Linked DNA regions of Homo sapiens. The protein of the gene in region 1 interacts with the protein of each later gene in a pairwise test. Each region holds a gene or a part of one and is shown in the gene's direction. Other genes may lie near its edges. The genes, in order: ZBTB5 and PTPN5.

Evidence for each region.
Region 2: the proteins of ZBTB5 (region 1) and PTPN5 interact in a two-hybrid assay, tested with the Homo sapiens proteins (one large-scale study listed by BioGRID and IntAct).

What each region holds. Positions count from the first base shown.
Region 1 is NC_000009.12:37,441,207-37,445,018, reverse strand, and holds part of ZBTB5 (zinc finger and BTB domain-containing protein 5), read left to right. Parts: intron 1-2,463; 5' UTR 2,464-2,467; coding exon 2,468-3,812. UniProt on the Homo sapiens protein: May be involved in transcriptional regulation.
Region 2 is NC_000011.10:18,739,743-18,743,554, reverse strand, and holds part of PTPN5 (tyrosine-protein phosphatase non-receptor type 5), read left to right. Parts: intron 1-125; coding exon 126-233; intron 234-479; coding exon 480-563; intron 564-1,051; coding exon 1,052-1,293; intron 1,294-1,667; exon of another isoform or gene 1,668-2,762; coding exon 2,763-2,952; exon of another isoform or gene 2,953-3,131; intron 3,132-3,812. UniProt on the Homo sapiens protein: May regulate the activity of several effector molecules involved in synaptic plasticity and neuronal cell survival, including MAPKs, Src family kinases and NMDA receptors.

The sequences.
Region 1 (3,812 bases):
TAAATTACAAGCACTCCCAGTCACATCAGGTTATCTATCCATTCCTTTTTTTCCCACCCCCCTTGGAGACCCACTCCTTGGAGTCCTTCCTGCTCCAGTCTGACTGCTTTTGCTCTCCAGGCCTGCTGCCTAGTTGTCATCTGGAGCTTCATCATCATCCTTGGGATTCCCTTTGCCTGTCTTCTCTGGTGGGTCTCCTGTTTCCTACAATCTTAGTCGCCTCCTGAGAAAGGATAAACCTTTGGGTTCTTATCTGAAAATGCCTTAGTTTATCCTAATTGATTAATAGTTTAGCTGGGTGTGGCATTCTAAGTTGGAAATCATTTTCTTGGATAATTTTGAAGGAACTGTCATCTTCTAGCTTTTAGTGCTGCTGTGGCAAAGACGAATGCCAATTTTATTCCTGATGTCAGCCTAGTGTGGGGATTTGTATCTTCATATTTTGAGTACTTGTTGGGCCTTTTTAGTCTTAATAAGCAAATTTCTTCAGTTCTCAAAATTTAAAAAATACCATTTCTTGGCCGGGCGCAGTGGCTCATGCCTGTAATCCCAGCACTTTGGGATGCCAGGGTGGGCGGATCACCTGAGGTCAGGAGTTCAAAACCAGCCTGACCAACAAGGTAAAACCCCTGTCTCTACTAAAAATACAAAAATTAGCCGGGTGTGGTGGCGTGCACCTATAATCCCAGCTCGTCAGGAGGCTGAGGCAGGAGAATCACTTGAACCCGGGAGGCGGAGGTTGCAGTGAGCCGACATTGCGCCACTGTACTCCAGCCTGGGGGAACAGAGCGAAACTCTGTCTCAAAAACAAAACAAAAAACCATTTCTTACATCATTTTCACCCTCTGTATTCTTCCTTTTCTCTTTCTGTAGTCAAGATATTGGACCTGATTAATTCCTTCTCTTATTCATTCACTTATTTTTATTTTATTTTCTGAGACAGGGCCTTGCTCTGTTGCTTAGGCTGGAGTGCAGTGGCCCAGTGACAGTTCACAGAAGCCTTGACTTCCCAGGCTCAAGTGATCCTCCCACCTCAGCCTCCCAAGTAGCTGGGACCACAGGTGCACGCCACCATGCTCGGCTAATTTTTTTTTGAGACAGGTTTCACTCTGTCACCCAGGTTGGAGTGCAGCAGTGCGATCTCTGCTCACTGCAGCCTCTGCCTCCCAGGCTCAAGTGATCCTCCCCCTTCAGCCTCCTGAGTAGCTGAAGGCACATACCAGCATGCCCGGCTAATTTTTTGTATTTTTGGTAGAGACAGGGTTTCACCTTGTTGCCCAGGCTTGTCTCAAACTCCTAAGCTCAGGCAATCCTCCCACCTCAGCCTCCAAAAGTGCTATAGGATTACAGGCATGCGCCACCACATCCTGGTGTTTTTTTGTTTTTGTTTTTTTTAATTGGATAGATTTTCAGCCAGGCCTCCTGCCTTAGCCACACCTTCATTCCATTTCCCCTGGCAAGGGCAACCAGTTCCTTGGCCTTTGGGAATGAGATTTATATATGTTAGGTTGTTTTATCCGCTGCCCAGTTTAGGATTTTCGCTTTTGGGGTGTGCTGAGTCAGTTAGCACTCATTTACCTCTCCCCAGCTTCCAAAATGCTATTGAAGGCCTTCTCATTCTCTTTTTCCTTGTGGGTTTACACCTTTAAAGTTTAAACAAAAACTTTAGTGTTTTTTTTTTTTTTCCTTTGAGATGAAGTCTCACTCTGTCGCCCAGGCTGGGAGTGCAGTGGTGTGATCTCAGCTCACTGCAACCTCCGCCTCCTCAGCCTCCCGAGTACCTGGGATTACAAGCATGCACCACCATGCCTGGCTAATTTTTTGTATTTTTAGTAGAGACAGGGTTTCATCATGTTGGTCAGGCTCGTCTTGAACTCCTGACCTCAGGTGATCTGCCCGTCTCAGCCTCCCAAAGTGCTGGGATTACAGGCATGAGCCTCCATGCCGGGCTTCGTGTCATTTTAGTGGGGTTTCAGGAAAAAGCACGGGGCAAATGCGTGTGTGCAATCTGCTACCATCTATAACTGGAAATCTTCCACACTAATATTGATTTGCCCTTTTCACTTATTTAGGGTTCCTAAGACTTTGGAATTTCTTGGTATTCATTCCTCATCCTTAGGGAATGCAGAATTCTAACAAACTTCTGTGGGATAGATATGCCATCACTCACACACTGGTCTTTACTAATTTAGACCCTTAGTGTTATACATGGCTCATATGAAGAGTAAAGGGGAGCCTGTCGGTAGCTAGGCCCACATGTGTGCATGCCTCCTGGGCTGATGGCTGAATTGCCATTTGCTTCTTATATGACAAGCTCTTAGTGTATGTGCCCATTATCAGAGATATCACGGGCTTCAAAGGTCCAAGCTTGGCCATCCATTCCACTCTTTTCATCATACCCTTTGTGTTCTGACTTTGAAGCTTTTCTAGGTCTTAACATTTTCTTTCTTTGTTTTTCTGTAGGATCATGGATTTTCCTGGTCACTTTGAACAAATCTTCCAGCAGCTGAACTACCAGAGACTTCATGGCCAGCTCTGTGATTGTGTCATTGTAGTGGGGAATAGACACTTTAAAGCCCACCGCTCCGTGCTGGCAGCATGCAGCACGCATTTCCGAGCCCTGTTCTCAGTGGCAGAAGGAGATCAGACCATGAACATGATCCAGCTGGATAGCGAGGTGGTGACAGCAGAGGCCTTTGCTGCACTGATTGACATGATGTATACCTCCACCCTCATGCTGGGGGAGAGCAATGTAATGGATGTCTTATTGGCAGCCTCTCACCTGCATTTGAACTCTGTTGTTAAGGCATGTAAACATTACTTAACGACAAGGACGCTGCCCATGTCTCCCCCCAGTGAGCGCGTTCAGGAGCAGAGCGCCCGCATGCAGCGCTCCTTTATGCTACAGCAGCTGGGACTAAGCATCGTGAGCTCAGCCCTCAATTCCAGCCAGAATGGCGAGGAGCAGCCAGCCCCCATGAGCTCTTCCATGCGCAGTAACCTGGATCAGCGCACGCCCTTCCCCATGAGACGCCTTCATAAGCGCAAGCAGTCTGCAGAGGAGCGGGCCAGGCAGCGCCTCCGACCCTCCATAGATGAGTCTGCCATTTCAGATGTTACACCGGAGAATGGGCCTTCAGGGGTTCATTCTCGGGAGGAGTTCTTTTCACCAGATTCTCTGAAAATTGTGGATAATCCTAAAGCTGATGGAATGACTGATAACCAGGAAGATAGTGCGATCATGTTTGATCAGTCTTTTGGCACTCAAGAAGATGCCCAGGTGCCCAGCCAGTCTGATAACAGTGCTGGCAACATGGCACAGTTGTCCATGGCCTCTCGTGCAACTCAGGTTGAGACTAGTTTTGATCAGGAAGCTGCACCTGAGAAAAGTAGTTTTCAGTGTGAAAACCCTGAGGTTGGCCTTGGTGAGAAGGAGCACATGAGAGTGGTGGTTAAATCTGAGCCCCTGAGCTCACCTGAGCCTCAGGATGAAGTGAGCGATGTGACCTCACAAGCAGAAGGCAGCGAGTCTGTGGAAGTGGAAGGAGTTGTGGTCAGTGCCGAGAAGATAGACCTCAGCCCTGAAAGCAGTGATCGGAGTTTTTCAGATCCCCAGTCTAGCACAGACAGGGTAGGTGATATCCATATTTTGGAAGTCACAAATAACCTAGAGCATAAGTCCACTTTTAGTATTTCGAATTTTCTTAACAAGAGCAGAGGAAATAACTTTACTGCAAATCAGAACAATGATGATAATATTCCAAACACCACTAGTGACTGCAGGCTGGAGAGTGAGGCCCCCTATTTGTTGA
Region 2 (3,812 bases), on another chromosome or scaffold:
GGTCTGGACCTTAGAGGTTCAGGAGCCTCCATGCAGGGCCAGGTTGAGGCTGCAGGTGAGCTCTGCTGGGGGAACACGGGGGAAGGGGGCCGGCTCCATACTCAGCCTGCTCCCCTGTGCCCCAGCTTGCCTGTGGGGTGCTCTGGTTCAGCGGTTATGGCCACATCTGGTCACAGAACGCCACAAACCTCGTCTCCTCTTTGCTGACGCTCCTGAAACAGCTGGAACCCACGGTAAGTAAGCTTTGGGGAGTCCTAGGGTAGCAGGGATCTGTTGGGGGCCTCTAGTCCCACCCTCCCCAACCTCCAGATTGGGCTTCTCTGAGTTCAGAAGATACTTCCAAGCCCCTGAAGTTCTTCTGCCTGCTCCCCATCCCAGACCTGGGACGTGATTTTCAGAATCTTGGTTTTGTCATCATTGCAAGAGCTGAGAACTCTGCCCCCACCACCACCCTGACCTGTTTATCTGATGTTCCCCAGGCCTGGCTTGACTCTGGGACGTGGGGAGTCCCCAGTCTGCTGCTGGTCTTTCTGTCCGTGGGCCTGGTCCTCGTTACCACCCTGGTAAGGCGCCTCCTGACCCCAACCTCAAGGCTGTCCTCCTCTGACCTTGAGGCCTGGATTTCTACCAGCTCCCATCTGACTTATAGGCTGGACATTCTGGGTGGGGCAAGGAGGGATACCTATCTCTTTGCACAAGTGTGCCAGCCTGGGGCAAGAGCCTCCTTCTTTCCGAAAATTGGTTTGCAGTGATCTGGGCTAAGGAAAGGGGATGAGACAGGGAGAAGACTGGTGTAGGAACTCCCAAGCCCCACTGAGAAGGCCTGAAGCCACAAGAAACAGAGAGCTGGGAGAGGGAGGGGCAGGGAAGGAGAGTGGGCATGGAGCCTCCCATCGAGGCCAGGGGCAGTGCCTTGTGGACAACTCCCAGGAGAGCAGAGCTGCTCTAGACACACTGAGGGAGTGGGGGGGCGTCAATCCCATGGGCACTCCAGGAACACGGGGGGCAGCCAGCGTGGTCCGAAATCTGTGATGCTGTACACCCCAACCAGGTGTGGCACCTCCTGAGGACACCCCCAGAGCCACCCACCCCACTGCCCCCTGAGGACAGGCGCCAGTCAGTGAGCCGCCAGCCCTCCTTCACCTACTCAGAGTGGATGGAGGAGAAGATCGAGGATGACTTCCTGGACCTCGACCCGGTGCCCGAGACTCCTGTGTTTGATTGTGTGATGGACATCAAGCCTGAGGCTGACCCCACCTCACTCACCGTCAAGTCCATGGGTCTGCAGGAGAGGTGGGAGGGGTGGAGGAGGGGTGGGCTCCACGGGCCCTTGAGCTCTTAGCTCCTGATCAGAAGAGTGGATGCCTGACTCTGACTCCTGGTGCCCAGGGCAGAGCTGGCCTTATAGCTTAGCCAGTGTAGACATGTGCTATCCAGGTCATTCATAGAGATCAAAGTGCCCCAAGATGAATGCTGAGAAATACTGTTACTGCACACGCACACATAGGTGTACACATGTTCACACACACTCTCCCATGCTCAAGTAAGTTTGGGTGGTTTTCTTTGCTGCAGGACTTGTCAGGGCCTTTAACATGCTTATGTTCATTGTAAATCAGCAAGGGGGCAGTATGTGGCATTTCCCAAAGTCACTTGACCACGGAACTCTATTTTTTTGTTTTACTTTTATTTTGGATTGAGGGGGTGCATGTGCAGTGTTGTTACCTGAGCATATTGCATAATGCCGAGGTTTGGGGTACAAATGATCCCATCACCCAGGTACTGAGCGTAGTGCCCAGCAGTTAGTTTTTCATCCCTTGCCCGCCTCTCTCCCTCCCTCCTCTAGTAGTCCCCAGTTTCTATTGTTGCCATCTTTATGTACCTGGGTACCCAATTAGAACCTGTTTTTATAGGGTAGCTCATAGTGTTCCACAGAGCACACTTTGAGAAGTGTAGACACCCTCGTTTCAGAGTCTAGGTGGGTGAGCCAGATCACACCAAATTTGAGTTACCCATGTGATGTCACAGAAAGAACACTGGGTGTGGAGTCAGGAAACCTAGCTTTTTATTTCAGCTCTGCCACCCCCTTACTGGGAGAGCCTGGACAACTCTTGGCCCTTCATGGGGACTCAGTTTCTCTTTCTATGTAATGAAGCCCCATCCTGTCCTGTGTCTGAGACTCTGAGTATAGTAGAGTTTGCCCATTGTAGACATCCTTGCGGCCACCGTGCTGCTCCTGGGACTCCCTCCTTCCTGACAGCGGGGGTCCTGGCCTCTCCTGGACAATATGTCCTTGACTCACCAGCAGCCTCATCCCAGGGCTGTTGGGCCCGGGACTGCAGTGGGGAGGGTCTGGAGCCATCCTCTCGGGCCCAAGCCCCGCTTCTGTGCTTCAGGCAGGTGTCCCCTCTCTGAGCTTCCTGGGGACCACAGGGTAGAACTTCCTCCAACGGTGATGGAGGAGAGTCCAGGGTAAGGCCATGTTGGGGTAGCTTTGGATGGAACTTTTAGAACTGGAGCCCCAAATCCCCACTAAGTTAACATCTCCACTGCAGGAGGCAGGAGATAGGGAGTCAGGCCAATGCCTCAGGGCTGAGATTCACGCTTCTTTGTCAGGGGGTCTTGTCACACTCCCACTCCTCTTCCTCAACCCCACCCTGTTCCCAGCTGATCTCTCCCTCCCTCATTTTCCCAGCCCTGGAGACCCCAGCTCATGCCCGTCCCTCTGCCCCTGAGGCTCACACTCCCTTTCCTGGTCCTTCCAGGAGGGGTTCCAATGTCTCCCTGACCCTGGACATGTGCACTCCGGGCTGCAACGAGGAGGGCTTTGGCTATCTCATGTCCCCACGTGAGGAGTCCGCCCGCGAGTACCTGCTCAGCGCCTCCCGTGTCCTCCAAGCAGAAGAGCTTCATGAAAAGGCCCTGGACCCTTTCCTGCTGCAGGCGGAATTCTTTGTGAGTTCCCTTGAGCCGGTCGCCCCACTGTGTGCAGACCCATGTCAATCATCCACCTGCCCAGGTGGTGGAGCGTGGTGCCTGGAACTCAGCATCTGCAGTAGATTAGTATCACTTTATTATCAGCTCTCCCACCATCTTGGGCAAGCTGCTTTCCCTCTGAGCTTCAGTTTCCTCATCTGGAAAATGGGGATGAAAATAATAGAATTGTTGCAAAGATTAAAGAGACTTATAACATGTGCAGAGCACCCAGCCAGGTGATGGAGGTACAGTGACAATGCTAAGTCTTTATTGCCCAGTGCTGTGCTCTGAAAGCCACAGAGAACCTTCACTTCTAACTCTTCTGTTTTCCCACTTTCCTCCTGCCGAGCATTGTTCTTCTGCCTTTGAAATCTCTCTAGTGGCCTCCCCTCGTTACCACCCCTGGGGCCCTAGCTTAGGTCCTAATCACCTCCACCCTGGCTTCTGCAGCAGCCTCCAGCTGCCTCCTATTGGACTTTGAGGGGCTCAATAAATGGCACCCCTGTTTACCTGCCTGAGTGCTCAGCCAGTTAAGAGCTAAGGCATAGGAGATTACAATATCACCTTTGTTGTCAATAAAATACAGGTTGGAAATGTGGCTTAGCAGGGTACAGCAAGAGTGAGCCTCCCGATACTGAGACCCAGAATTACATGCACTTTCCACCCTCCACAGGGGTGCCGGCACATCTCGGACCTTGCCGCATGGGGGCACCCCTATAATTCTTTCCTGGCAGGAGGGCCCTGAGAGGAGGAGGAAGGAAGGGGCTGAGGCTCCAAAGCTCCATTCCTCAACCAAATTCACCAAACAGGTAACTCCTCACTTCTGTGAGCAGGAAAAG